Linked DNA regions of Homo sapiens. Each later gene encodes a partner of the first gene's protein in a complex. Each region holds a gene or a part of one and is shown on either strand. Other genes may lie near its edges. A codon is read from its position in the direction of its gene.

Evidence for each region.
Region 2: CALR (region 1) and CELF1 share a complex: the UniProt entries of both Homo sapiens proteins name them as parts of the EIF2 complex.
Region 3: the proteins of CALR (region 1) and GABARAP are in contact, whole or in part, in a crystal structure (PDB 3DOW), measured with the Homo sapiens proteins. Residues at the interface, in NP_004334.1 of Homo sapiens: Asp199 (codon at 1,460), Trp200 (codon at 1,457), Asp201 (codon at 1,454), Phe202 (codon at 1,451), Leu203 (codon at 1,448), Pro204 (codon at 1,445), Pro205 (codon at 1,442); in NP_009209.1 of Homo sapiens: Glu17 (codon at 2,783), Ile21 (codon at 2,771), Tyr25 (codon at 2,759), Arg28 (codon at 2,750), Pro30 (codon at 2,744), Val31 (codon at 2,180), Ile32 (codon at 2,177), Lys48 (codon at 2,129), Tyr49 (codon at 2,126), Leu50 (codon at 2,123), Val51 (codon at 2,120), Pro52 (codon at 2,117), Leu55 (codon at 2,108), Phe60 (codon at 1,953), Leu63 (codon at 1,944), Ile64 (codon at 1,941), Arg67 (codon at 1,932), Phe104 (codon at 1,399).

What each region holds. Positions count from the first base shown.
Region 1 is NC_000019.10:12,931,630-12,941,804, reverse strand, and holds the start of CALR (calreticulin precursor), read right to left. Parts: upstream 3,197-10,175; 5' UTR 3,126-3,196; coding exon 3,035-3,125; intron 2,672-3,034; coding exon 2,570-2,671; intron 2,378-2,569; coding exon 2,174-2,377; intron 1,753-2,173; coding exon 1,658-1,752; intron 1,563-1,657; coding exon 1,353-1,562; intron 1,322-1,352; exon of another isoform or gene 1,265-1,321; coding exon 1,151-1,264; intron 1,062-1,150; coding exon 918-1,061; intron 1-917. Other genes in the region: FARSA (phenylalanine--tRNA ligase alpha subunit), read left to right, coding at 8,109-8,255. UniProt on the Homo sapiens protein: Calcium-binding chaperone that promotes folding, oligomeric assembly and quality control in the endoplasmic reticulum (ER) via the calreticulin/calnexin cycle.
Region 2 is NC_000011.10:47,549,253-47,558,389, reverse strand, and holds the start of CELF1 (CUGBP Elav-like family member 1), read left to right. Parts: upstream 1-5,257; 5' UTR 5,258-5,398; intron 5,399-9,137. UniProt on the Homo sapiens protein: RNA-binding protein implicated in the regulation of several post-transcriptional events. Involved in pre-mRNA alternative splicing, mRNA translation and stability.
Region 3 is NC_000017.11:7,239,500-7,249,661, forward strand, and holds GABARAP (gamma-aminobutyric acid receptor-associated protein), read right to left. Parts: upstream 2,951-10,162; 5' UTR 2,832-2,950; coding exon 2,742-2,831; intron 2,181-2,741; coding exon 2,102-2,180; intron 1,962-2,101; coding exon 1,843-1,961; intron 1,421-1,842; coding exon 1,355-1,420; 3' UTR 509-1,354; downstream 1-508. Other genes in the region: PHF23 (PHD finger protein 23), read right to left, coding at 87-132; CTDNEP1 (CTD nuclear envelope phosphatase 1), read right to left, coding at 4,686-4,746, 5,052-5,136, 6,527-6,638, 6,755-6,871, 7,292-7,363, 7,565-7,683, 7,778-7,844. UniProt on the Homo sapiens protein: Ubiquitin-like modifier that plays a role in intracellular transport of GABA(A) receptors and its interaction with the cytoskeleton.

The DNA.
Region 1 (10,175 bases):
TGAAGCCCTGTCTCTACAAAAAGGCTGGGTGAGGTGGCTCACGCCTGTAATCCCAGCACTTTGGGAGGCCAAGGTGGGTGGTTCATGAGGTCAGGAGATGGAGACCATCCTGGCTAACACGGTGAAACCATGTCTGTACTAAAAAAAAAAATACAAAAAAATTAGCCAGGCATGGTGGGGGGTGCCTGTAGTCCCAGTTACTCGGGACCCTGAGGCAGAAGAATGGAGTGAACCTGGGGGGTCGTGCGGAGCTTGCAGTGAGCAGAGATCACACCACTGCACTCCAGCCTGGGCGACAGAGCAAGGCACGGTCTCAAAAAAAAAAAAAAAAAAAAAAATTAGCCTGGCATCCATAGTAGCACATGCCTGTAATCCCAGCTACTCCGGAGGCTGAGGCAGGAGAATCGCTTGAAACCAGGAGACGGAGGGCGCAGTGAGCTGAGATCGTGCCATTGCACTCCAGCCTCAGCAACAAGAGTGAAACTCTGTCTCAAAAAAAAAAATTTTTTTTGTAGAGATAGGGTCTCCTCGCTGTGTTGCCAAGCTAGGTTGAGTTGTGTAACTCCTGGCCTCAAGCAATCCTCTGTCTCAGCCTCCCAAAGTACCGTGATTGTAAGGGTGAGCCACTGTGCCCAGCCCCAGCTAACTAACTGGGTTACCTGACCACCTTCTAGGTCTTTGGGGGTAAAGAAGTTGATTTGCATAAAAGTACTTGGGGAAGTACTTGGTGCACAGCAAGTATAACCTTAAAGGGGTTGCTGTGAGGACTTCACAGGGACAGACCAGGAAGTACTGTTTACAAGAAGTACCATTTTTGAGTCAGACTCACCTGGGGTGCCTACCCTGTCCCTTTCCTCTTGGGTGATCTTATGCACTTGAGGTACCCCAGGGATCCTCCTTTTTCCTCCAAGTCTCACCTGCCAGAGGTCCAGGCCCAGCACGCCAAAGTTATCATAGGCATAGATACTGGGATCGGGAGAATACTCGGGGTTGTCAATTTCTGGGTGGATCCAAGTGCCCTTGTAATCTGGGTTGTCGATCTGCCGGGGCTTCCACTCACCCTGCAGAAGGGAGAAGGAAACCGAAGGGTGAGTAAGGTTGGTGCACTCCCCACTGTGAGCCCCAGCCCTGCTCAGAGCCCCAAACTCACCTTGTACTCAGGGTTCTGAATCACTGGGGGTTCCCACTCTCCGTCCATCTCTTCATCCCAGTCCTCGGGCTTCTTAGCATCAGGGTCAGGGATATGCTCGGGCTTGTCCCAGTCCTGGGGGGTAGATGAAGAGATCAGAGTTGGCCCAGATGTCTTCCACACCCTCCAATGTGGAGAGCAGAGCCCCTGCCCAAACACCAACCTCAGGCTTGGAGTCTGTGGGATCATCGATCTTGGCCCGCTCATCCCAGTCTTCCGGTTTTGAAGCATCAGGATCCTTTATCTTCTTGGGTGGCAGGAAGTCCCAATCGTCTTCCAAGGAGCCGGACTCCACCTGGCTGTTGTCAATCTTCACCTCATAGGTGTTGTCTGGCCGCACAATCAGTGTGTACAGGTGTGTAAACTCATCATCCTGAAGAAGGAAGAAGGTGAGCGGGGGCCACCCCCCAATGAGGCTGACCTCTGAATCTCCCCATGACAGCCATTTGCCACCACCCCCAGGCACACCTTGCAACGGATGTCCTTGTTGATCAGCACGTTCTTGCCCTTGTAGTTGAAGATGACATGAACCTTCTTGGTGCCAGGGCCACAGATGTCGGGACCTAGGTGTGAAGCAGATCCAGTTAAGAGTCAGAGACTACCCATCATCTCGAGGCTCTCACCCCTCTTTATAAAAGGAAGACCTGGTTCTTCAACTCGGGTCTGTCAAGGCTGAGAAGAGAAACTCAGACCCTGATTCTGTCCTGAATGGGCTGTGGGTGGAGCCTTAAGTTTAAAGGAGAAAAAAAAAAAATCAGTGCTCTAGAACTCAAAATCCTCATTAGTAAGATTGGGAAATAACTATATACAAACACGCAAATTAAATTAACAGCCTAGATCTGCGATCATAATGCAATAAATTGTTGCTGGGACTTATTCTTTTAGCTCCCCTTCCAAAAAAAATCATTATTAAGAAAGTCAATGGGGTCTGGGTCTCCCTCTAACTAATGGGACAGAGATCAGCACCAGGAAGCAGGCCCTCACCAAACATGATGTTGTATTCTGAGTCTCCGTGCATGTCTGTCTGGTCCAAACTATTAGGAAACAGCTTCACATAGCCGCCCCCACAGTCGATGTTCTGCTCATGTTTCACCGTGAACTGCACCACCAGCGTCTGGCCTTTGTTGCTGAAAGGCTCGAAACTGGCCGACAGAGCATAAAAGCGTGCATCCTGGCTTGTCTGCAAACCTGAGACGGGACGGTAGTGAGGTCACCGTTGGGCCTTGACTCGCGAGGACCCTCGACTTAGAGAATAGAGAAGACTCCCCCACTTCCTCCACCTGTCCTCCTCCAAGGGGACTGTCCCGGCTGTGTGTGTACAGACAAGGACTTCTGCCAGGAAGTCCTCCCGGATCTGAGCACCCACTCCTAGGCTCTTACCTTTATCTTTCTCCTCGTCACCGTAGAACTTGCCGGAACTGAGAACGAATTTGCCAAAATCTGACTTGTGTTTGGATTCGATCCAGCGGGAAGTCCACCCGTCTAAGTGGGGGATTAGAGGGGTAGGTCAGAGCGGCTGTGCTAATCCCCCCCCACACCAAACATCTGCCGAGAGCCACAAGCTGCTGGGGACAGGAAAGGAGATCCCCGACACTCCCCATTCCAACCTCTAGTTTGACACGTCGGGTGCCTTCAGAGATCCTCGGGCTAACCCTAACTCCCGCCGCGGGAGGCCGCTACGCCCTCCGCGCTCCCCAGGGACGCAGAAGAGAAATCGCCCGCGGCTCTAGTCCCGGGAGGCCACCGTGTTGGACCTCTAAACGGTAATTACGGGCGACAACGCAGATCCAGGATCGGGGGCCGGCCGCGTCGTCGGGGCGGCCTCGAGGCGGGACCAGGCGTTACCTCCGTCCAGAAACTGCTCCTTGAAGTAGACGGCAGGCTCGGCGACGGCCAGGCCGAGGAGGCCGAGCAGCAGCGGCACGGATAGCAGCATGGCGGGCCGAGGGGGCGGCAACGCGCGGGCCCTTTAAAACGACCCTCCGGCAGCGGCTCTGCAGTACGGACGGACGCCGCCGCCCGCCTTGCACTTTTATACCCACCCGCCTCTCAAACCAACCTGACCCAGCCCTTGGGCCCGCCCCTGCCACTTTGTCATTGGTCTATGCCCATGGCCGTCTTTTTCCATTGGACCTTCGTCGGTTCACTATGTTAGGCTGCGCCTCGGAACGCTGGGTTCCCAGATGGCCGATTTCTATTGGCCTCACCACCGACCAATGATGGTCGACCACGCGTGGGGGGGACGCCCACTGGTGGGGTGGGGGCCGCGAGCACCTCAGGCCAGGTCATGTGACCAGACCTGAACCCAACCCCGCCCTCGTCCGCGCGCGTCGTTGCCCATCTGGGCGTTTAAAGAAACCGCGGGAGCGCAGCTGTCTCCACGCGGGACCGGGACCCTGCCCTCAGCTTCTCTCCCTCCCATTCCCTCTAGGTGGAGGGGCTGGGCAAGGCTTTCTTAGCCAGCTCTTATCTTGCATTTGAGAACCAGCACCCCACTGCTGCTCCCCCACCCCTGCCTGGGATGGGAGAGAGCTCACGGATTGGGGCCCTTGGGGCTTCGCTGCACCCCGGTGCTACAGTCACGCGGGCCGGTGGGAAGAATGCCAGCCCTCTCCTCCTTCTGCCCCTAGAGCCCTGGCAGCCTATCGGACTGCTGCTGTGTGACCGGGGCAAGTCACTTAAGCTCTCTGAAGTGACAGACGTTCCTGAGCAGACAGAGGGGGCGACCCTGGCCAGATGCTACCCAGCAGAAATGCTTTTAACGTTTTTAAAGCTGTCCTGGGACAAGAGGGGAGGAAGGCTTAACGATGTGACTGTGACTTCTGGAGTGGGGATAGGGTTATTACCCAGATTGCAGCCGCCCCTTTACCCTCCTCTCAACCGGTAAATGAAGGGGGTCGCTGTCTGTGGTCTCCCACAAACGGCCTGGCTTTTGCAATTAAACGGCTATAGGCAGGCGAGAGGGCAGGGGGTTCCGTTTGGGGAGGGAAAAAAGACACAGATGGTAGGGACGATAAGATGCTAGGGAGATGGGCAGGACCCACCCCCCGACCCCAGTCTAGAGTCTTCTTCAGAAGCCAGAGGCACGTGACTGGCACCAGTACCCTGCCCCCACGCTGTAGAAAGGAGGAAGGAGAGCTGGGGGTTTTCCAAACTCTGGGCAAATAAGCCCTGGACCTGGGAGCGCGGGAGTGGACTATGGAAGGAGGGAATGAGGGGGATCCAGGAAAGAGGGTGGGGAGGGGGTGCTTCCTGGCTAATGGTTGTGACTCAGAAAAGAGAGGAAGGAAAAAATGAAAAGGAAAATAAAGTGGAGTGGGGGGAATGACTTGGCAAGGGTCTCTGGTTAAAAAAAAAAAAAAGAAATGGTGGCCGGGCGCAGTGGCTCACGCCTGTAAACCCAGCACTTGGGGAGGCCGAGGCGGGCAGATCATTTTAGGTCAGTTCGAGACCAGCCTGGCCAACAAGGTGAAAACCCATCTCCACTAAAAATAAAAATAAATAAATAAATAAAAATTAGCCAGGCGTGGTGGCGGGTGCCTCTAATCCCAGTACTCGGGAGGCTGAGGTGGGAGAATCGCTTGAACCTGGGAGCCAGAGATTGCAGTGAGCCAAGATCACGCCACTCCACTCCAGCCCACCAGCCCAGGTGACAGAGCAAGACTCCATCTCGAAAAAAAGACGGGGGAGAATGAACTGGGAAGTTGGGGTTCTACCACTTCCTCTAGGTAGTATTCAGTATTGCCTAGTCTGGTCCCCCCCATGAGGATCCCGGGGACCATCCCAGGCCTCTTGCTGACCCTTCCTCCTGTTCCTGTGTCAGGCACCTGTGGGCTTGGCGCTTCCTACTTGAGGTTAGACACTGCCTGTTTTGTTCACTTCGCATCCTCCAGTGTCACCTGCAGCACCTGGCACAGAACAGGCTTAAAAAGTACTTGCTGCATGATAGAAGAGAGGAAGGAAGGACTCTTGTGGAAATTAACTAAAAACACACGGGGCACAGTGGCTCACGCCTGTAATCCCAACACTTTGGCAGGCCAAGATGGGAGGAATGCTTAAGGCCAGGAGTTCAAGACCAGCCTGGGCAACATAGCAGGAGGCCATTTTTACAAAAACATTTTTTTTAATTGCCAGGCGTGGTGGCGCCTGCCTGTGTTCCCAGCTACTCAGAAGGCTGAGGCAGGAGGATCACTTGAGACCAGGAGGTTGACGCTGCCGTGAGCTGTGTTGTTGCCACTGCACACTCTAGCCTGGGTTACAGAGCAAGACCCTGTCTCAAAAATAAATAAAAATAAGCCGGACATGGTAGTTCACACTTATAATCCTAGCACCTTGGGAACCTGAGGCAGGCAGATTGTTTGAGCCCGGCAGTTCAAAACCAGCCTGGGCAACATGGTGGAACCTCATTCTTACAAAATATATATATGTACACATATGTAATATATTATATATGACATATAATGCATAAATATATGAATAGTATGTATATTATATATAGCATATAATATATAATATACATAACACAAATTAGCCTGGCCTGCTGGTACACACCTGTAGTCCCAACTACTCGGGAGGCTGAGGTGAGAGGATTGCTTGAGCCCAGGAGGTGGAGGCTGCAGTCAGCCAAGATCATGCCACTGCACTCCAGCCTGGGCAATAGAGTGAGACCCACTCCCTAAATAAATAAATAAATAATCAACATAAAATGGGAGGAGAGAAGGGACTTTGAGAAATGTATCCTTAATACAGAACCTCATATAGGGTCAGGATTTGGGGATATGAGTAATCCCATTTTACAGACTCAAATAATAATTGTGATGTAAAAGGAATAAATGTGTTCTGCTTATAAGAGTGTTCGAACATGGGCCACACTCAATTTAGTAAGCAGTGTGAATATGTGTGGGCATTTAATTCTCACAGTAACCTGGGCTCCAATCACCTCCATGTGAGCAAGAAACTGAGGCACAGAAAGACTACACCTTCTGGTTGAATGACATAAATAACAGATCTAGGATTCTTTTTTTTTTTTTTTTTTTTTTTTGAGACAGAGCCTTGCTCTGTCACCGAGGCTGGAGTGCAGTGGTGCGATCTCTGCTCACTGCAAGCTCCACCTACCAGGCTCAAGTGATTCTCCTGCCTCAGCTTCCCGTGTAGCTGGGATTACAGGCACCCCCACTGCACCCAGCTAATTTTTGTGTTTTTAGAGGAGATGGGGTTTCGCCATCTTGGCCAAGCTGGTCTTGAACTCCTGACCTCAGGTGATTCACCCGCCTCAGCCTCCCAAAGTGCTGGGATTACTGAGCCTGGCCAGCAGATCTAGGATTCTAATCTACCTGTGCTGACGTAAGTCACCACTGCCCACATGTGATTACTGACCATTTGAAATGTGGTTGGTCCGAACTGAGATGTGTTGTAAGTGTAAAATACGCATCAGATTTTGAAGATTTAGTATGAAAAAAAGTGCAATTTTTTTTTTTTTGAGACGGAGTTTCGCCTTGTCACCCAGGCTGGAGTGCAATGACACGATCTCGGCTCACCACAACCTCTGCCTCCCAGGTTCAAGCGACTCTCCTGCCTCAGCCTCCCAAGTAGCTGAGATTACAGGCATGCGCCACCACGCCCTGCTAATTTTGTATTTTTAGTAGAGACGGGGTTTCTCCATGTTGGTCAGGCTGGTCTCAAACTCCCGACCTCAGGTGATCCACCCGCCTCGGCCTCCCAAAGTGCTGGGATTACAGAGGTGAGCCACTGTGCCCGGCCGAGTGCAAAATATTTTATTAGTCATCTTTTTTTTTGTAAGAGTCAGGGTCTGGCTGGCTGGGCGAGGTGGGTCATGCCTCTAATGCCAGCATTTTGGGAGACCGATGCAGGAGGATAACCTGAGCCTAGGAGTTTGAGACCAGCCTGGGCAACATGGCCAAAACCCATACTTAAAAAAAAAAAAAAAGCTGGGTGTGGTGGCGCGCACCTGCAGTTCCAGCTACTCAGGAGCCTAAGGTTGGAGGATCCTTAGAGCCTGGGAAGTCAAGGCTGCAGTAAGCCATAATTGCACCACTGCACTCCAGCATGGGTGACAGAGCAAGACCCTGTCTCAAAAAAGAAAGATGTTTTGCACTGTGTTTCTATAGGACAGTGCTAATCTAGGCCATGCAGTATTTGCACTGACGTTACTCTCAGCGCACAGGGGTGGGAGGATCTGGAAGGTTTATAATTTATGACTTCATTTCCACCAACTCTCTGTAGAACCTTGGGCAAGTCATACCACCCTCTGAGCCTCAGTTTTCTCACATGTGTAATGCGGTTATATCAGTATCTACATCATAAAGTTTTGGGGATAAATGAAATACTACACGTGAAGTACTCAGTTCTGGGCTAAGTACTACCACATACGAGGTAGTCCACACAGGTTAGGTGCCACCTTGACTTACTAGGTGAATTCCTTTTCCCTCTATAAAAAGGGACGGTACCTACCCAGCCTTCCTTTGAAATTTTAAAAGTAGCTGACATCGCCAAAATGACCATCTCTGGAGCCCACCACCCACCGCCTCTCCTAGGGCAAGAGAGAATACCAGAAGGGCAGAGGGTTCTGTAACCCAGAGACGGGGAAGTCCAAGGTCACACAGCCCGCTCGAAGTGAGGCTAGATAAAACTCAAAACAGGGCGGTGCTTCTGACCTTGAGATAATCAATTTTACCCCTCTGGTCAACCAGACGCCATTGATGGAGCCAGGGTGGAGGTGGGAACTGAGTCCCATGCACCTTTTGCGGCTCCGTCGCCACACTCAAGATGACGACACATTGAGCCCTGTTCTACAGTTAGACACATTCAAGATGGCGGTACACACTCCGGTTCCGGTTCCGGTGGCTCAGCTCCCCCCGCCCACCCGGGCCCGGACACGCTGAGCACACTGGAAGGAGTCATGGCGGATGGTCAGGTGGCGGAACTGCTGCTCCGGCGGCTGGAGGCGTCTGATGGCGGCCTGGACAGCGCCGAGTTGGCGGCTGAGCTGGGCATGGAGCACCAGGCGGTGGTGGGCGCCGTGAAGAGCCTTCAGGCGCTGGGCGAGGTGAGCCGGGCCCGTGATGCCGGACCGCCTTGCCCTTGCACCTACAGTCCCCTTGCCACGGGCGCTCTACGTCCAAGCCAAATTCCCTCAGGCCTAGTTTGGGGTAGCTGTATATGTGTCCACTCCGGGATGTGCGGGCGGGAAGTGGGACGAGTGAGGGCCCAGACGCACGGATGTTCCTCATGCAATAAACGTTTATTGAGGCACGGTCAGCGTGGGTAGAGGGTACGATGATGGACGAGGAAGTCGCGGTTGCTGCCCTCACGCAGGTTGCGACGTAATAGGAAGGTGCTTCAAGAACCAGAGTGATGGGGGAAAACAGGGGACCCAGCTGTGACAGCTGACCCAGCCTTGGGGGTCAGGGAGAGCGGCCTGGTGCAGGTGACGGCTGAGTCTGTTCTCTGTTGAGGAAAGTGATAGCACTTTAGAGATCAGTGGCCGGGATCTTGGGGGATGGCAGGCGGCAAGGGAGACCAGCATAGCTGTAATTGCAAAGCCTCTTAGGTCTTTACCTCATGAGGGAACTGGGAAGCGATAGCAGGAGCTAGAGCCGGTCAGATGAGTGTGCTATCCACATCACCTTTGGGAAGAATTGGCATGGACAGGACTGGAGGTGAAGGGATGAAAGAAGAAGCTGGCACTTCCCCAAGCTGGAGGGCATGATGTCTGGCTATGGGAAGGAAGCTTGGGGGAGGTGGGGAAGGCGTGGGATTCAGGACAAGGCAGGGGGCGCACAGATGAAGTCCAGCCTTCTGACTTGGGCAAGTGGACAGTGACAGAGTCACAGGCGTAGGATGCTGAGGGGCCCGTGGGCCACCCAGAAGGCTAGATCCATGGGGCCAGGATCTGGGCTGTTTATCCGTAGAGCTCATGTTCTGTGCCCCACTTTGGTCTCAGCTTGTTTGTCCAATCCATTCCATAATCCTGGCTGATGGCCATGTTATTCCCATTTTGCAGATGTGACAACTGATGGTCAGTAACATAATCAGTGTGAATAGAAGAGGCCGATGAGCCCAGATTTGAAATTAGGCACTCAGGCTGCAGAGCCCATAGTCCTCAATGCAGAGGAGAGATGGCAGCTGTGTTGTGTGGGGTGACAGTGCCTTGACCAATATGATCTGACATTTGTATACGTCACAGAGGGTTAAATAATATAAGGAGGTGAGGTTCAATCTAATGACAGTAATAGCCATAAAAATAATTATAGTAATTAGAATTTATGCCGGGTGCAGTGGTCACACCTGTAATCCCAGCACTTTGGGAGACCAAGGCGGGTGGATCACGAGGTCAGGAGTTCAAGACCAGCCTGGCCAAGATGATGAAACCCTGTCTCTACTAAAAATACAAAAAAAAATTAGCCAGGCGTGTTGGTGGGCACCCGTAATCCCAGCTACTTGGGAGGCTGAGGCAGAGAATTGTTTGAATCGGGAGGTGGAGGTTGCAGTGAGCCGAGATCGCACTCCAGCCTGGGCGACAGAGCGAGACTCCGTCTCAAAAAAAAAAAAAAAAAAAATTTATGCAGTGTTTGTCACGTGGTAGGCACTATATATTCTTTCTGAGTATTAATTTAGCTACTCCTTAAAATCATCTGAGGTAGAACCCATCACACCTTTCTCTTATGGATGAGAAGAGTCACTGAGAGGTTAAGCAACTTTCCTGAGGTCACACAGTAAGTGAAGGGCAGAGTTGGGATTAGAATGAAGTGGGAGCCAGGCCCTGTGCACTCTACTTACCCTTGTTGTCCTTGTCTTCATGACTCTGGACCTGGAACCTCAGTTTTTGTTTGTAATGTGGACCTCCAGGGCCCGTCTCTGACATTCTGGGCACTGACATGTGAACATTTAAACATGGAGACAGGCTGGGTATGGTGGCTCATGCCCATTATGCCAGCACTTTGGGAGGCTGAGGAAGGAGAATCAC
Region 2 (9,137 bases), on another chromosome or scaffold:
ACTAGATCCATTATTTTACCAAAATGCAGATTTTCTGATTATATATATAAAACACTCATAGGAAATTTGACCATAGAGGGATCAGGCTCGGGCCACCTCAACCACTGATGAGTCTGTGTCAGTAAAAGCAGGACAGACAACTTGACATCATAGGCTATAGGCCTCCAGATGTGATGCAGTGTGACGCTCGCAGCACCGCCTGAATGTAACCAGGCCTTAAGAGTTTTCTTTCCGGCCATGCGCGGTGGCTCACGCCTATAATCCCAACACTTTCGGAGGCTGAGGCGGGCAGATCACCTGAGGTTAGGAGTTCAAGACCAGTCTGGCCAACATGGTGAAACCCTGTCTCTACTAAAAATACAAAAAATTAGTTGGGCATGCTGGCAGGTACAGGTAATTCCAGTTACTCGGGAGGATGAGGCAGGAGAATCTCTTGAACCCAGGAGGCGGAGGTTGTAGTGAGCCGATATTGCATCATTGCACTCCAGCCTGGGCAACAAGAGCAAAACTCCATCTCAAAAAAAAAGAGTTTTCTTTTTTTCTTTTAGAGACAAGGGCAGGGCGAGGTGGCATGTGCCTGTAAGTCCCAACTACTCTGGAGGCTGAGGCAGGGGGATCACTTGAGTCCAGAAGTTCTGGGCTATAGTGCAGTATGTCAATCAGGTGTCTGCACTAAGTTCTGCATCAACATCGTGACCTCCAGAGAGTGGGGGACCACCAGGTTGCCTAAGGAGTGGTGAACCGGCTCAGGCTGGAAAAGAAACAGGTCAAAACTCCCATGCTGATCTGTAGTGGAATCATGCCTGTGAAAAGTCACTGCACTCCAGCCTGGGCAACGGAGCGAGACTCCGTCTCAAAAAAAAAAGAAAAATAGGCCGGGCGTGATGGCTCACCCCTGTAATTGAAGCACTTTGGGAGGCCAAGGCGGGTGGATCATGAGGTCAGGAGATCGAGAGTACCCTGGCTAACACGGTGAAACCCGTCTCTACTAAAAATACAAAAAATTAGCCGGATGTGGTGGCATGTGCCTGTAGTCCCAGCTACCCGGGAGGCTGAGGCAGGAGAATCGCTTGAACCCGGGAGGGGGAGGTTGCAGTGAGCTGAGATTGTGCCACTGGACTCCAGCCTGGGCCACAGAGCCAGACTCTGCCTCAAAAAAAAAACAAAACAAAACAAACAAAACCAAGAAAGAAAAGTAAATAGGCCGGGCGTGGTGGCTCCCGGCACTTTGCGAGGCTGAGGCGGGCGGATCACTTGAGGTAAGGAGTTCAAGGCCAACCTGACCAACATGGGGAAACCCCGACTCTACTAAAAATACAAAAATTAGCTGGGCGTGGTGGTGTGCACCTGTAATCCCAGCTACTCAGGAGGCTGAGGCAGCAGAATCGCTTGAATCTGAGAGGCAGACATTGCAGTGAGCCAAGATGGTGCCACTGTACTCCAGCATGGGCAACAGAGCAAGACTCCGTCTCAAAATAAATAATAAATAAATAAATAAATAACCAAATAGAGACAGGGTCTTACTCTGATGCCTAGGCTGGAGTGCAGTGTCGTGATCATAGCTCACTGCAACCTGGAACTCCTGGGCTGAAGGGATCCTCCTACCTCAGCTTCTTAAGTAGTTGGAACTGCAGATGTACATGCCACCATGCCAGGCTAACATTTTTAAATTTTTTATTTATATGGAGATGGTGTCTTGTTATGTTGCCTGGGCTGGTTTTGAATTCCTGGCCTCAAACAGTCCTCCTGCCTTGGCCTCCAGGGTAGCTGGGATTATGGGAGTATGCCATCATGCCTGGCTATCATCATTTCCTCTATATTTATCTATTATTATATGGCTATGAATGAACCATAATTTATCAATCTCATTTTGTATCAAATTTTATGCTGTTTAAACAATGTTATGGTCAGGTGTCATGGCTCGCACCTGTAATCCCAAAACTTCGGAAGGCCGAGTGGGGAGGGTTGCTTGAGCTCAGGAGTTTGAGATCAGCCTGGGCAACATAGTGAGACCCCTGTCTCTACAAAAGAAAAAAAATTAGTTGGACATGGTGGCACACACCTGTGATCTCAGCTACTCACAAGGTTCTGGTGGAAGGATCTCATGAACCCAGGAGTTCAAGGTTGCTGTGAACTATGATAGCACTACTACACTCCAGGCTGGGTGACAGAGCAAGACCCTGTGTCTAGAAAAGTAAAATTAAAAAAATAAAAAATGTTACAATCTCTGCCATTATCCATGAATATTCCCTTAGGATAAATTCCTAGAAAGGTATGTAAAAGTTTAGATTCCTCTAGGCAGATTATCTGAACTTTACTCCCATCACCACTTGGAGAAGGCTATTTCTCTGCACTCTTACTAACACTGGCTTTTTTTTTTTTTTTTTTTTGAGACAGAGTCTTGCTGTGTCGCCCAGGCTGGAGTGCAGTGGTTCGATCTCGACTCACTGCAACCACCGTCTCCCAAGTTCAAGCTATTCTGCCATCTCAGCCTCCCGAGTAGCTGGGATTACAGGCACCCGCCATCATGCCTGGCTAACGTTTGTATTTTTTAGTAGAAACAGGGTTTCACCAGGTTGGTCTTGAACTCCTGACCTCAGGTGATCCATCTGCCTCGGCCTCCCAAAGTGCTAGGATTACAGGCATGAGCTACCGCGCCTGGCCGACATTGGCTATTTTTTAAAAAAAATAAATCTTAATCTATTTGTAAGGCAAAACATGAAACAGGAAGCTTTACATACTCTTAAATCTCACACTAGGCTTTTTTTGTATTTGGACTGTTTAGCATTTTGTCTATGTTGCTGAAACCCTTTGAAGTTACAAGATCTATTTGTGTTCTTCATGTAATTGTTCTTCCCCCCAACCTTGGGCTAACAGTCTGTGGCCTTCCTTGGTAACTAAATGCAAGAGTGATATTAATACCTTACAAGTTCCTCCCTTGCAAATGGGAGCCCTAAGTCAAGGCACAGATAGAATAGGAAAAAGCTTCTGGTTGCTCTTCAAGAAGTTTATCGAGTTAGATACAGTGAAAAGCAATGGAGATATTAGGAGAATAACAAGATGGGCATGGAAGAGTTTCTGTTTGCTCTTCAAGAAATATCTATTGAGTCAGATATTGTGAAAAGCACTGGAGATATAATAAGACGGGCATGGTGCCTTTCCTTATTTAGCTCATGGGCAGGTTCCAAGAAGCTTCTAAAGGCGCAACATTTTGTTTTCCATATCTGGCACCTAGATATACCTATTCAGTAAGTCAACAATATTTATTGAGCATGTACTATGGATTAGGCATTATCAAGGCCCTGAGGATAGAGCAGTGAAATAAAACAGACAAAACCTCTATCCTCATGAAGTTTACCTTTGGTTTACCTTCTGGGCTACTGTCAATAAAACAAGTAAAATATATAAATACAAAATATACTGTGAGGCCGGGTGCAGTGGCTCACGCCTGTAATCCCAGCACTTTGAGAGGCAGAGGCGGGCAGAACACTTGCAGTCAGGAGTTTGAGACCAGCCTGACCAACAGGGGTTGAAACCCCGTCTCCACTAAAAATACAAAAATTAGTCAGGCATCGTGGCACGCGCCTGTAATCCCAGCTACTCGGGAGGCTGAGGCAGGAGAATTGCTTGAACCTGGGAGGTGGAGGTTGCAGTGAGCCGAGATCGCGCCACTGCACTCCAGCCTGGGTGACAAGAGCTAGACTCCGTCTCAAAAAAAAAAAAAAACTGTGTTAGATAATGATAAATGTTTTGGATAAAAATGAAAGTGGGATTGAAAGCATGGGTGTGTGTGTGTGTGCACATGCCATGCATGCAAGCAGTGTAAAATAGAGTGCTTAGGGAAGACTGGACTGAGAAGGTGACACTTAAGTCAAAGTCTGAAGGAGGTGAGGAAGTGAGCCATGTGGATATCCACATGATTCTATGGAGCACAAAAGGAGACAGACTCTCTGCTTGAAACATTTCTACAACCTATAGCAGCAAATATATGGTAATATTTGTGACAACATTCTGTAAGCTATAATGGTCTATAAATATAGGATGTTTTCAGTCAACTACACATAAAACTATTAACAAGAACAAGATCATATATCAGCATTATGAATGTATATAAAACTACCCAGTACAATTAGGGAATATGATCATGTACAATTTAAGGACTATATGGTACCAGAAAAACTCTGGTTAGTTTTTTTCCCCCCCAAAGGCGAAAGAGGAAAACCCTTGAGGCTTCTGCTTGGAAGCCCACTTGTTGTTTGTGGTAAGGTAGGATATAATCAGTATTTGTGGGTATAAAAATTATATTCTCTGGGAAGCCAGATGATGTTAGAGAGAAACCATCCCATGAGTTATTTGCATGTTGATGGGGCCAAAAGCTTCCAGAACAAAGTTTTCTTTCTTAATCTGCATTTAACTGCCTCACAAGGTCTGGAACCTAGGAATAAATGTTGGCTTAAACAACAACAACAACAACAACAAATTGTACTGCTTGCGTTCCATCTAGACCCAGGGATTCCAGAGTAACTCAGGAGGAAGTCTTTAGAGACCTAACCTGAGTTAAGAAAAAAAAATATATATATATATTTTTTTTTCGGTAAAAGCAGGTTATGGCTGGGCAATCGGTCTCTTAATAGAATCTTTGTGAACTTCCTTATGTCGCAGCGATCGTTGCCAGGTTGTGCGTTCACACTGATTATCTTGCTAAAAAGCACTCCCTGCACTTGGAACACACATATTCACATCCCAGCAAAGAAGGAAGGCCTGGATGCTGTTGCTTGTCTGCTGGGGCAAAAAGGGGCGTGCCATGTGCCCAACGCTGGCCAAGCACCAGTCACTCACTCATCCATTTATTCAACAAATATCTTATTATGCTCCTATTCAGTGCCCAGTAGGGGTGCCTCCTTGCCCACCAGGGTCATCTAGAGCTCCTGTGGGTGCGATGGGCGGAGTCGAGAACTTCAGATTCCCAGGCCTGGCTCTTCCCTCCAGTAGGGATCGGAGACAAAGAGATGCGCCCCTGCAGCTCCCTAGGTTGAGGGCTCCGCCCGCGGCCCCAGGGGCTTAGGTGCGGCTGCTCCTCCACTTCCCAGCCCGAGGGGGCGCTGCAGCGCCCGGCGCTCGGCCCGCCCCTACGCCGCGCTCCGCTCGCATCGGCGCTGCGGGCGGCGCCGCGGTGATACGTTCCCCCTCGCCGCGCTCCCCCTCCTCCTCTGCCCTCCCCGCCGGTGGTAGGTGCCGGAAGTGCCGCCATTTTGGGGTGTTCTGCTCTGGCGGCAGCGGCAGCGGCGGCGGGACGCGGAGGCTCCCCCGGGATTCGGCCTCAGCAGCGAGGCGGCGGCGGCGGCTGCGGAGGCGCAGGCAGCAACTGAGGCAGCGGCAGGCTCAGGTGCAGCCGCTGGTGAGTGCTGCGGCCGCAGGATAACGGGCCGCGGGAGGGAGGGAGGGGAAAAAAGGCAAGAGGGAGGCGCCGCGGGGCGGGTCCGGTTAGGGAGGCCGCGGGTCACAGGGCCCTCCGGGCGCGGCCTTTTCTCGTTCCCTGCGTCCTGGGGTAGGGCTGCGATCTCCTCCTGCATGTCGGGGTCCCCGGCTCCCCGGGTCCTGTCGCGTTTGCCCAGCGCGTGCCCCCGCGCCCAGGGAGACCCGCCCTCCTCGTGGCTTTGCTTCCTCTCCCCGCGCCCTTTACCTTCACTCTCTAGGCTCAGAGGCCTCGTGCCCTGCCCAGGGCCAGCTCCGTTTTCCTCGTCTTTCTGGCTGCCGTGCTGGACCCAGGCTACCTGCCCGGGACACCCCATCTCTGCCCCTGTCGTCTCACGTGTTCTTAGTGTCCACTCCTGTGGGTGCCGAAGGGTCCGCGCCCCTAGAAGGCAGCGCTTTTCCCGAGCCTCGAGAGCCCCTCGTTCCTCGCCCCAGATCCGCTACGGCCTTGGCTCGCCCTCCCCCCACATCAGGTGCTCACCCAGTCGTGGCCTAGTAGCTGGGCAGGAATCTCGCACCCGGGAGCGGGAGGAGCACATTAAAGCGCTTTCTTCGCTAGGGACCAGGCTTTGATTTTAAAGCCAGTGGTGTCGTGGTTGTGGTCCTCCGGGTAGGATGTTGTTGTAATTCTTGGAGACCATTACACATGCACCAAGGAGCTTCTCATTGGTTTAGGCTCATACCCATAGTTGAGGGGAATGTGGTAAGATTTTGACTGGAATCTGTTTCCGCAAAATGGAATCTCTTTCTCGCCAGGAGAGAGCTGTAGGTTTATTACCTTCGAGTAAAAAGGCTGTATAACAGTTTTAAAGAGCATGAAATGCTTTATAATGTGTGCAGTGTAAGAGGTTACAAATAATGAATCTTTTACAAGAACTTCATCTTTTTTTTTTTTTTTTTTAAGACGGAGTTTCGCTCTTGTTGCTTAGGCTGGAGTGCAGTGGCGCTATCTCGGCTCACTGCAACCTCCCCAGGTTCAAGCAATTCTCCTGCCTCAGCCTCCCAAGTAGCTGGGATTACAGGCATGTGCCACCAGGCCTGGCTAATTTTCGTATTTTTAGTATAGACGGGGTTTCACCATGTTGATCAGGCTGGATGGTCTCGAACTCCTGACCTCGGGTGATCCACCCGCCTCGACCTCCCAGAGTGCTGGGGATTACAGGCGTGAGCCACCGCCCCCGCCCGGAACTTCACCTTTTAAAGTTCTTTTCACTGTCTTTGATTACCCATGAATTGGGAAGGCTTTAATTGGATGCTTTCCCCTTGCCCACAAGTGTAGCTTCTCTCCAAGCGCTTTGGAAGTTTCAGCCTCTCTATTAATCCTTGGTGAGAATGAAGGCGTCTCAATATAGAATCACCCTTTCTGTTTTAGCATTAAAGAGTCCACTTAGAAAATCATGGAATTACAATAGCATGCACAAACTGTTGCTACAGTGATTTTCTTCTCATGTTAATTTTTATATTCTTCAGGCTTTACTTACCTAGTATGTGGTTTCTGATCATGAGTTAGCCAAGATTGAAGCAGCACTGTTGGTAAAGCAAAGCTGGAGCTTTCAGTTGTTGCTTTAACCAGGAAGGTTATGGTTCCCCTAGTGGTTCTTTCCTCATGACAGTCCACCACCTGTTTCCATTAAGAATGGCCTTTGGCCCAGATCACAGGCCTCAACTTCTATTCAACCATTCATTCTGACCCCTTTAAAGAAAACCCAGGGTTTTCTTTAGAGATTGTGCTATCTAGACTTAAGATCTGGTAGCAAGAGGGGCTGTTAGAGATGGAATATCTTTTCTAGAACCCCTTCACTTTTTGGATGAGGAAACTGAGGGCCCTAGAAATTAAGTGACTTACTTGCCCAAGGTTATGTTTTTTTTTTTTTTAAACAATATCACGAGTAATAATGCAATCTTCCCTTTGAGGTGTAATGAAATGGGAAAGGACCCTGAATTGAAGTTAGAACTAGGCCTGGATTGTAATGCTTGCTCTGTCATTTACTGGTTACACAACCTTGGCAAGTCACTCAACTGTTCTGCTCCTCAGTTTATTCGCACCTGCAAAATGAAAGAAACAGCATCTGTCTCACATGGTATTAGTTCAGCTTCAGTAACATGGTGAAATACCCATGATGTAATAGGCAGACAGTGAAGTTTTTAGCCAAAATGATTTTTTTCTAAAGACTTCCGTGTATTTTTCTTAATACAGAAGTTACAGATTCACTATAAAAAAAAAACAGGTAAGTCAAAAAATGAAGAAACTCACCCATAGTGCCACCACTCAGAGATGATTGTTAAATATTGGGTCTTTATCTTGCCCATCCTTTTCATATGCTATAGAAATGCCTATCTTCCCAAAATAGGCTTATCTTAGTCACAGTTTTGTGATGTGGGTCCGGTCCCCCCCAACCCCGCCATGGAGTCTTGCTCTGTCAACCATACTGGAGTGCTCACTGCACACCCTGTCCCCCGGGCTCAAGCAGTTCTCCTGCCTCAGCCTCCCGAGTAGCTGTGATTACAGGCGCCCACCACTGCGCCCAGAGGGTTTTTGTATTTTTAGTAGAGATGGGGTTTCACCATGTTGGCCAGGCCGATCTAGAACTCCTGACCTCAGGTGATCTGCCCACCTCAGCCTCCCAAAGTACTAGGATTATAGGTGTAAGCCACCGTACCCGGTGTTTTTTTTTGTTTGTTTGTTTTTGTAGAGACAGGGTGTCACTGTTTTGCCCAGGCTGGTTTTGAACTTCGGATTACAGATGTGAGCCACTGAGCCTGGCCTACATTTTAAAATTGTGGTTAAAAACACAAAATTGGCTGGGCGCAGTGGCTCACACCTGTAATCCCAGCACTTTGGGAGGCTGAGGTGGGCGGATCACGAGGTCAGGAGTTCGAGACCAGCCTGGCCAATATGGTCAAACCCCATCTCCACTAAAAATACAGAAATTAACCAGGTGTGGTGGCATGTGCCTGTAGTCCCAGCTACTTGGGAGGCTGAGGCAGGAGAATCCCTTGAGCCCAGGAGGTGGAGGTTGCAGTGAGCTGAGATTGCACCACTGCACTCCAGCCTGGGCAACAAGGCAAGACTCTGTCTCAGAAAAAAAAAAAACAAAAAAAACCCACAACATTTACTAACTTAGCCATTTTTAAGTGTTCTGTGACATTAAGTACATTCGCACTGTTGGAAAACAGATCTGTGAGTTTTTCATCTTGCGTATCTGAAACTCTATGCCTGTTGGACAACAGCTCCCCTTTTCCCCCTCCTACTAGCCCCTGGTAACCACCATTATTTCTGTTTCTACCAATTTGACTACTTTAGATAACATCATGTAAGTGGAATCATACCATGTCTGTTTTTTGTGACAGACTTATTTCACTTAGTGTAATGTCCTCAAGACTCATCCATGTTGTACTGTGTGACCGGATTTATTTCCTTTTTAAGGCTAATACTCCATTGTGTATATATATATATCATATTGTTTATGGACTGCATCCACTAATGGACTTTTGGGTTGCAGCTACCTCTTGGCTATTGTGAATAGTGCTAATGTGACTAGGTGTGCAAATAGGTATTCCAGCCTCTGGAACAATATCAGTTGTTTTGGATATATACCCCAAAGTGGGATTGCTGGATCAAGTGATAATTCTGTTTTTAATTTTTATTATTTTGAAAGAAT
Region 3 (10,162 bases), on another chromosome or scaffold:
CCCTCCTCCTCCTCCTCCACCTCCTCTCTCCTCCCTCCCTCCTCTTCTCTCCCTCCTCCCCCCGCCGGCGCCGAGGCGCAGTGCACCAAGGGTTTTGTAGTCCGTCCGGGAACAGCGGAAAAGGGACCGCATGAACCTCCGGAACTTTGATTCCCAGAAAGCCACAGGCTGGCGCAGGCGCACCAAGCCGCTCCCCTCCCCCGGGGAGCGGCGGGGAGACCAGGAGCCGGAGGGGAGAGCGGAAGTGCGCGCGCAGGCCCCTGGGAGATGTAGGCTGGGCGGGACCAAGAAAGAAGAGGAAGAAGGGATTAGAACTCTCGGCCACCATACTGCCTCGTTCTGCAGCTTCTTTCTCCCCAGGAGGACCGCCCCACTTCCGGCCTGCCGGAGAAATGATTGCTGGGAGTTGAAGTATTCCTGGCGATAATGGCTCCCGCTCCCAGTCTTCTCCCTCCCTGATTCCACTCTGCCGGATCCCACACACCGGCAAAAGTCTAGCCAAGTGACATGCAACTGAGAACAGCCGTTTTACTAGCTTGCACACATGAAAATATCTTAGTTAGAATGTTCTAGCAAATGTGGATGTTCACCTAAAGCAGGTACTTCGGAACTTTCTCCACAGGAACCCACAGTAAAAAAAAATTTTTTTTTACATGAGCATTTTTAACATTTAGTTTCACATGCGTGTTATAAAACTAAAGTTTCAAGAAATAATCCTCAGTATTCCATTCCATCACAACAAAAGCACCCTCTTTTTGCAGACAGGGAAAAGCCCAACATGAACAGAATAAACCAAAATATACTTCTATCCCTCCAGCTTGTACCCAGTACTCTTCTTTCCCCACCACTGAAACCCACTGACACCTTGGAAAGACTTAAAATCAGCGGGACGAGGGGAGCAACACAAGGCAAAATTCAGTTCAGCTTGGTGGTTTCCTCTTTATTGATGTGCCTCCTACCTTCCCCCCACAATTTCAGTCCCTTCCAACTACCCCCAAAAAAGAAGGTAGTGAAAGGAAGGGATTGCTGGGGTTCTGAGCCCCTTGGGCAGTCAGAAAGGGAACAGAAACCAAAACAATCACTGGATGTGACACAGACTGACAATCAAGAAGTCTACAGCAGGATGGGAAAGGCGGGCAGAGAAAGGGGAAGAAAGGAGAAAGGAGAGTTACAAGATGCCAACTCCACCATTACCCCTCCTAAGAGAGGCTGGAGAGAAAGCCACAAACATTAAGAAGTGCCGGTCCTGAATAAGGGAGGTGGTGTTTGAGCTTGAAGGAGGAGGAGGTCAAGAAAGGGGGGCCACCTCTCTCTTTGTAGAATGAGACCCCCCTCCAGCTCAGGGGCAGCAGCTTCACAGACCGTAGACACTTTCGTCACTGTAGGCAATGTAGAGAAAGAAGTCTTCTTCATGGTGTTCCTGGGATGAAAGCAGAAAACTGTTCAGCAACTGGGCTCCAGTAACTTAAACCAACCACGACCCAGACACGTTCTTCTAGAACCACAAACCATTGCCTGACTCCTTCACTGACTCCAAGGCCTACCACACGAGCAGTATAATCTCTGCAGTCCTGGGCAAAAAGGCCTCAAACTGTTTTCTGCTGCTTTGGAATGGGGAGGGGGACTGGGAAGAGTCCCGAACAGATAGTTTCTCTAGCTCACTGTTCTCTTTCCTTCTCTCTACTCCTACTGTTCTGTCCAAACCCCCAACCCACGGCTATTATGAAACTTTAAGGCAAGCCAGGAAGCTAGTCCAAAACTACTGATGTAACAACACTTTCTTCCCCTCACGCTCTTCCAAGATTCCTCTCCAAAGCCTCCACCACTTCCCAGTCACCATACCTGGTACAGCTGACCCATTGTGGCACTGGTGGGTGGAATGACATTGTTGACAAAGAAAAACAAGGCATCCTCAGCTCGGAGATGAATTCGCTTCCGGATCAAGAAGTAGAACTGACCAACTGCAAAAGATACAAGATGCAAGAAAGTCACAGAGGTCAAAAATGCCCTCAAAAGAACAGCTGCTAGGTGGAGCCTCCTCCCGCAGAGACTGCACTCCCACCCACAGGAAGCAAGCCTGAGTCTTGGATCAGGTTCCCACCTGTGAGATCAGAAGGCACCAGGTATTTCTTTTTGTCCAGGTCTCCTATCCGAGCTTTGGGAGCCTTTTCTACTATCACCTGATAAAGAGATGAAAATTAGGAGACAGAAGGAATGCAGCCCCGAAGCTGCACCTGTCAAGAACTCAAGAAACAATATTCCTAGCACCTAAATCTACCCCAGATTCATCTCTTTGTCTTTGTACACGCGGTGCAGCACTGAGTCCCAGAGATCCTGACCTCACTGACTGGAGCTCATTTAAATATCCAGGATCCATCCCCCAATAGGGCGTCACCATAAACAACTATCTTAATCAGACGGAGGTGACTTGTTTGGGTCGACTAGTGATTCAATCTCGCAACCTTAGCTAGCTGGGGGGATGACCATTTGAAGCTCAGGCTGTCAAACTCTCTAAGGCCTCAAATGCTAAGGTTTCTCTCTCCTGTCCACATCCCTCTCAACCCCACATCCACCACTACCCCACTCCTTTCATCCTGGGTCCCAAGGACAGCAGTTTCAGGCTCGCTGCCAACCCCACCACAGCCAGCAGCCTGATCCCTGCGCTGCCTGTCCCGATCCAAGGCCAGGCTGTGGCGTCAGCGTAAGCGTCCCGCGCCCTCGGCCCTGGCTACTGTCCTCACCGGCACCCGGTCCGGGTATTTCTTTCGGATCTTCTCGCCCTCAGAGCGGCGCTTCTCGAACGGATGCTCTTCTTTGTACACGAACTTCATCCTCCCGGGAACCGGGCTGGACAGGGCTGGGCTGAGGGAACCCAGGGGGGCCGGGACGGGGGGCGGCGACGACGGCGGCGACGCGCGGGCGGATTCAGCGGAGCGATCCACGAATTTGCGCCACTTCCCTATTCACCAACCCCGCCCCCGACTATCGGGGACTGCCCCCCCCGCTAAGATACGCCACTACCTCAGCGGCGCTAACGCTGCTAGCGTAGCACCACCAACTGACCGGCCCCCTCACGCCATTAGCGTAATCGCTTTGGAATCAATTTGTGGGCTACGCAGGCGACGTAGCAAAGACGGTTGGCTTTTGCTCATCGAAAATTACTCTAAACCTATTCCCCAACCGTCCCCTCAAGGAAGCTGGGGCTGAAGAGGAGTAAAAGATGGTAATCATCATACGAGACTTGGTTCTCCAAGTTCCTTTCGTTAACAACGTAGAGGAACAGCAGGGACAATTACAAGGTTAGCTATTCACGAACCGTGTTGCTACGCTGAAGGCGGCCGTTGACACCAAAACAAAGTAGTACCCAAGTGGCGGAGATGATCTCCAGAAATAAGAAGTCAAAAAGAAAACAGATGTTTGGAGAGATCTACAGAACGCTTAAGTGCCAAAATGAGTAGACCAATAGGGACTGGAGAGGAGGTTGGAAAGGTAGGGACTACGCCAGCGCGGAGGAACACTGCGGGACTTGAGTTAAATCATGTGATCTCAAAGAGGGCGGAGCGTCACGTGGCGGGTGCGCGAAGTAGGGCCGGCTTGGGAGGGCGCCGGGGAGGCGGGGCCGGCTGGGCGACAGCTGGGAGGGGGACCGACGCCTTCCCGGACAGCGGAGGTCGGGGCGCCAGCCACCTGGGGGCAGCGCCCGCTTAACCTGTCCACGTCAGTGCCCCGGACGAAGCCCGGTTTCTCCAGCTCTACGCCCTTTGGCCGTCCAGGTTTCTCCTTTCGTGCTTCCATAGCCGGTTTCTCCTTTCGTGCTTCCATAGCCTGCTTCTCCGAAGGTGTCCTTCCACTCCCCACCAGCGCGCCCATCCTGTCACTCGGCCCTTCCCGCCAAAGCATCTGGTGTCAGCATTATTGTATCCCAGGCATCTGGTGTCCGCATTATTCTATCCCTATACTCAACGCCACCTTTCCCCCTGCCCCTTGAGTCCAACAGCAGTCTCTTCCCCCTCTGCCTGTGGGACAGGGTGCATGTGAACAAAGTCCCCTCTCTTCACTTCCCAAAACCCCAGAGAAGGACCTAAGGCCGCTTTGGTTTCAAAGTTATAATGCATGGTTTAAAAGAGAGAAAAGGAAAAAAGACACAAAGCTGGTTACAGGTCTGAGGGAGTCTAAGGAGAGAAAAATAGAGGGAGAGTAAAGGGGGGACAAATTTAGGGAAAATCCAGTGGCCCAAAATCCCAGTATCCCACCCACAGCCCAGCCCTTGGAGCAGGAGTGAAGAATTAGATCAGTTTTGTACAAGAGTTTTTTAAAAAAAATCAAATCACAACAAAGCTGACTTGGCTTCTCTTTGAGCCTCCTGGATCACCGTATGTCTGTCACTCTGGCCAGTCCTGCCTCTTCACAAACACTGATTCGGCTCTCCTAGGCTTCCGCCTGTGTCCCAGTCTGGGGTTTCCATGGAGTGTGAACACGAAGTTAAGAGTGAGGCTGCTTCAGAGCCCCTGGCCCATGTGTCCATCCAGACTCCAAGTGGAGTGTAGGGCTCCCAGGGCAGAGAGGGGTGGGAGGGGCAGACCCTGCCCAGGCAGTCCTCACATTGGACAGGGCATCAGACGGCATCCCAAGGGCTCGCCCTCCCTTTCCCCCCCACCCCAACTCAGGTGGAGGGGGAGCAGCTGTCACCAGAGCCGATGTTGGTGAAGGTTTCGGCTCAGCACGGAACGAACATCAGCGGTGAACCTGGGGTGACAATAACTTGCATTGGTAGAGTACCTTATAGTTCATACCCTCACAACACTCTTGTAAGGCAGCATCACTGGAGATGTGGGACCTAAATTATCACCATATTCATGATTAGATAGGTTCAATTTGCCCACAGCCTACTAGCTAAAGTGATGAGCTTTGAAGTAAGACGACCTGGGTCCAAATGTTAAATTCTTAAGGGAACAGAGTTAAAACAGGACAAACCTTTTTTATTCCCTCTGAGGATCCCCCACCTCCTCCTTTCTTGAGATATCCAAGTGTCCAGAGCCCACTTCCCTTACCTGAGGGCATCCAGCATTGGGAGCAGGTTGAGAAGGGCTGTGTCGCTGGGGTCACTGAACCAGGATTTGATGGGGATGGCATTGTCTAGGGTGGGTGAAAATGCAGATGAGAAGAAACAGAATTCAAGAGAGACGGTGTTTTTCTCTTCTTGGAGGGAAGGAGGAATTATTGTTAAAAATATATGCCTCCCACTACCGGAAGTCAACAACCTAAGTAAAACTTTCCTGGTTTATGCTCCGAAACTAAGTTTTAATCACCAGATCTCATACCTATTGATGCTTCTAGTCAAGCTTACTGCCATTGTGCCTCACTTGAAACACACTTGGCCAGGCGCAGTGGCTCACACCTGTTATCCCAACACTTTGAGAGGCCGAGGTGGGAGGATCACTTGAGCTCAGGAGTTTGAGTCCAGCCTGGGCAACATAATGAGATCCCTTCTCTACTAAAAATCAAAAAATTGGCCAAGGGCAGTGGCTTACGCCTGTAATCCCAGCACTTTGGGAGGCCAAAGCGGACGAATCACGAGGTCAGGAATTCAAGACCAGCCTGGCCAACGTGGTGAAACTCCGTCGCTACTAAAAATACAAAAAATTAGCTGCGCGTGGTGGCAGGTGCCTGTGATCCCAGCTACTTGGGAGGCTGAGGCAGGAGAATTGCTTGAACCTGGAAGTCGGAGGTTGCAGTAAGCCGAGATCACGCCACTGCATTCCAGCCTGGGTGACAGTGCGAGACTCTGTCTCAAAAAAAAATAAAAAATAAAAAAATTAGCTGGGCATGGTGGTGCACGCCTGTAGTCCCAACTACTGAGAGGCTGAGGCAGAAGGATCACTTGAGCCTGGGAGATCGAGGCTGCAGTGAGCTATGATCATGACACTGCACTCCAGCCTGGGAACAGAGTGAGACCCTATCTCAAAAAATAAATAAAAATAAATTTTATTTTTATTTATTTATTATTTATTTTTTTTGAGACGGCGTCTCGCTCTGTCACCCAGGCTGGAGTGCAATGGTGCAATCTCGGCTCACTGCAACCTCCGCCTCCCGGGTTCAAGCGATTCTCCTGCCTCAGCCTCCCGAGTTGCTGGGATTACAGGCGTGCGCCACCACGCCTGGCTAGTTTTTTCTATTTTTAGTAGAGATGGGGTTTCACCATGTTTGTTAGGCTGGTCTCGAACTTCTGACCTCGTGATCCGCCTGCCTCGGCCTCCCAAAGTGCTGGGATTACAAGCATAATCCACCGTGCCCAGCCAAAAATAAATTTTAAAAATGAAAAAAATGATATAAGAAATCCGACTTATGAAATGGACATATATGGTATCTCATTTGAAACACAAAAATAACTTGCATTTCGACTTACAGCAAACTAGGGATAATCTAGGGAATCCCAGCTCTCAAGGACCAAAGCCCAGGTCTCCTGCAAAAATACCTTCTCAGAACCATGTTCTGGTCCTGCCAGACTCACCACCTTCCCCCGTACCTGGATGGCTCCTGTAAGCCCCTGGGGAGTTATCCAGGATCACAATGCTGGAGAGGTCACTGTGGACCACAGAGAGGTCCTTGATGTAGCTGCCCAACTCCAAAGTGCAGTGCTGGAAGGCAGGGGATCATGTAGCAGGCCTCTCTCCAGGATACTCTCCTCAAACCCAGATCCCTCCCTGGTGGCCTCCCTCCCAAGCCACACTCTTAGACTGGGATTCTAGCTTACCTGTCTGTAATATCTCCTCTTAAGAATGCTTCTGCTATTGTCCAGTTTATCTGCCACAGCAGAGCCATAGATCTCCATGCTTGCTGTAAACACCACCAGCTCGTACCACTGGCTCACCTGAAATAGATTGGGGGAGAGGGCGATGCCATACAAGGTGATGATTCCTTTAGACATACAGTTATCTTTCAGAAAGGCAATGGCATAGTCCTTCAGGCCTTCCATCAACATCAAATGTCTCTGAGGACACGAAATTCTGAACCCCCAGCCCAAACCTCCAAACTCAGTGTTAGGCATCCTACACTCTTATGATTCAGAAATGCAAGAACAAAAGAGAAAGATGCCAGCGGAAAAGAATTACATCAGCACAACAAATGAACCCCAAGTACTGAAAGCCACTCCCCTACCATTACACAGCCTCCCCTCTAGAAAACTGCTCTAACCCGTTTCTCCTCACCCCTTCCTCCAAATCCTCCCAATTCCCAGAGCCCTAAAACCATTCCTTCATTACAGAGCTCCCTTTAGCTCTCCAAAACTCACCACTTCCAGGAAGAAATCCACATGGGGCCTCTTATGTACAAAAAACCGGACAGGATGTTTGTCTATTACCACCTACAGAGGAACAAGATGGGCTGGGGGATGTCATGACCACCACAACCCAGGCCTAGAAAACGCCCCACCCATCTGCTTCCCTCCTCCAGGCTGACACTGGTGCCAGCGGATGGAGACAGATGCTCTGGGACTGGGAAAGGGAGTCCAGGTTTGGGCAGAGGAACAGATGGAACCATTTCATCACTCCCCACCACCACACACCTTGAGGATGAAGTCAGGAGGCGTACCAGGCCGGACTGTGGGCCTCAGGACCCCATCATGGTGGGAGTGAATAAGTGTCTCATCCAGATCCAGCACCAGGATCTTCCTCTTCACCTGGGCTGAACCAGAGTGGGGAGGAATAATATTGACCGACCTCTGACCCAGAGCTAGCCCCTACTTCACCCTAAAGGAGGCTTCCCACCACATACTTACCTAGCCGATTCCGGGACACAGGAGATAAGGGGAGGATATCATATCGAACAGTTTGGTACTGAATTACCTACAAATAGCACAAAAGAGGATTGAAACCCTTGATAAGGAAGCCTTCCCCAGTAACAGTAACAGGGAGCACATAATGAACATTTACCACAGGTACTATGTATGTAATTTAGGCTTATTTCTTCTTCTTTTTTTTTTTTTTTTGAGATGGAGTCTCGCTCTGTTGCCCAGGCTGGAGTGCAGCGGCATGATCTCGGCTCACTGCAACCTCCGCCTCCCAGGTTCAAGCAATTCTCCTGCCTCAGCCTCCCTAATAGCTGGGACTACAGGCGTGCACCACCACGCTCGGCTCATTTTTGTATTTCTAGTAGAGGCGGGGTTTAACTATATTGGCCTGGCTGGTCTCAAACTCCTGACCTTGTGATCCTCCTGCCTTTGCCTCCCAAAGTGCTGGGATTACAGGAATGAGCCACTACGCTGGCCTTTTTCATTTAATCCTCAAAACAACCATAATATTACTGTTATACCTGTTTTAAGGTTAAAGAAACTGAGGCCACACAGCTAGGAATTATCTTAAGTTGTTTCTCTCCCTAATTAAAATGAAAACTCCATGAGAATATGATTTTGTCTAGATCATGGCTGTATTCCCAGTGCCTAGAACACAGTAGCAAAAGTGGTCAGTTGATATTAGTAGAATCAGCCAGGCGCAGTGGCTCATGCCTGTAATCCCAGCACTTTGGGAGGCCAAGGCAGGCGGATCACAAGGTCAAGAGACGGAGACCATCCTGGCCAACATGGTGAAACCCCGTCTCTACTAAAAATATAAAAATTAGCTGGGCGTGGTGGTGCGTGCCCATAGCCCCAGCTACTCGGGAGGCTGAGGCAGCAGAGTGGCTTGAACCCAGGAGGCAGAGGTTGCAGTGAGCCGAGATCGCACCACTGTACTCCAGCCTGGTGACAGAGCAAGACTCCGTCGCAAAAAAAAAAAAAAAAAAAAAAAAAAAAGTAGAATCAATGAAGTGATAGAGCCAGGATTGTACCAATGCAGTTCAACCCAAGAACGTGCCCTCTTTTTTTTTCTTTTTTTTTTTTTTGAGAAGGGAGTCTCACTCCATTGCCCAGGCTGGAGTGCAGTGGCGCGATCTCAGCTCACTGCAACCTCCACCTCCCAGGTTCAAGCAATTCTCCTGCCTCAGCCTCCTAAGCAGCTGGGACTATAGGCGCGCGAACCACGCCCAGCTAATTTTTGTATTTTTAGTAGAGACGGGGTTTCACCATATTGGCCAGGCTGGTCTTGAGCTCCTGACCTCATGATCCACCTGCCTCAGCTTCCCAAAGTGCTGGGATTACAGGCAAGAGCCACCACCCCCGGCCGAAGCTGCCCTCTTAACTGTGATATTATCCTGCTACACTGAACAAAGAAACGACCCCCACAACGCAACCTTCACCCCAAGAATTATTTGTAGCAACTACCATCATTGGGAACTAAGTGCCTCAGATTCCCTAGTGCACATGGAGTAGGAGTCGGGAGGAGATCCCTGGGTCCTTAATGGGAATATAGAATGAGGGAATCCAGAGGTTGTCAGGTCAGCTAAGTTCCTCTGGCTAGAAGCCACCAGGCCTATTTTAACCAGCCACCTGTCCACTTCTGTCCCTTCTAGCCAAGTCACAAGTTCAGAGAACCTCAGCCCTCTGAACAGTCTCCTTATCCTGGTACCCAGGGTGAGGCAAAGAACACTGGAAAGCCCCTGCCAGGCTGACTGGCAGGGTCTGGAGGAGGCCAGAGTGAAGTCAGGGCCGTTAAGTGAGAGGTGAATAAGGGACAAGGACGTCACCACCTCATCCAGCTCTGCTTCTCCAAGCATTCTCTAGGGGCTATTTCCTAATACGCACATCTCCCCATACAAAGCCTGGCAATTCCCTCTTCCACACTTTTCTTCAAAGGTACAAACCCTCTTCAGTGCATACCTAGGCCCCAAGCCACACCAGAACCAGGTTCTCCCTTCTAAACCCACAGGGCTCTCTCCCCCTAATCAAGATCTGCCCTTCTTTTCTCCCTGGGCCATGATGAGGTCCGAAAGAGCTCCAGTGTCCAGCCTTGCTATCTCGGGTTGCATATGCTGGGCATGTAGGGAATGCTCCAAGCATCTGCCAGAAGCGGGGTGGGGAAAGAAACCAGATTGGAAGGGAAGGGAGGACAAAAGGCTATGGGGTCAGTGCTGCCCAAAGGAGAGCAATTTTGGAAGTAACCTGTGGATGAGCTGAAGCACCACTCCGTATGCCCAGAAAACTGATGTGTTGGAGCGAGAACGTCAGAGAAGATGGCAGTCAACCCATAAAGAAAACCGCTGGAGGCCGGGTGCAGTGGCTCAATCCCAG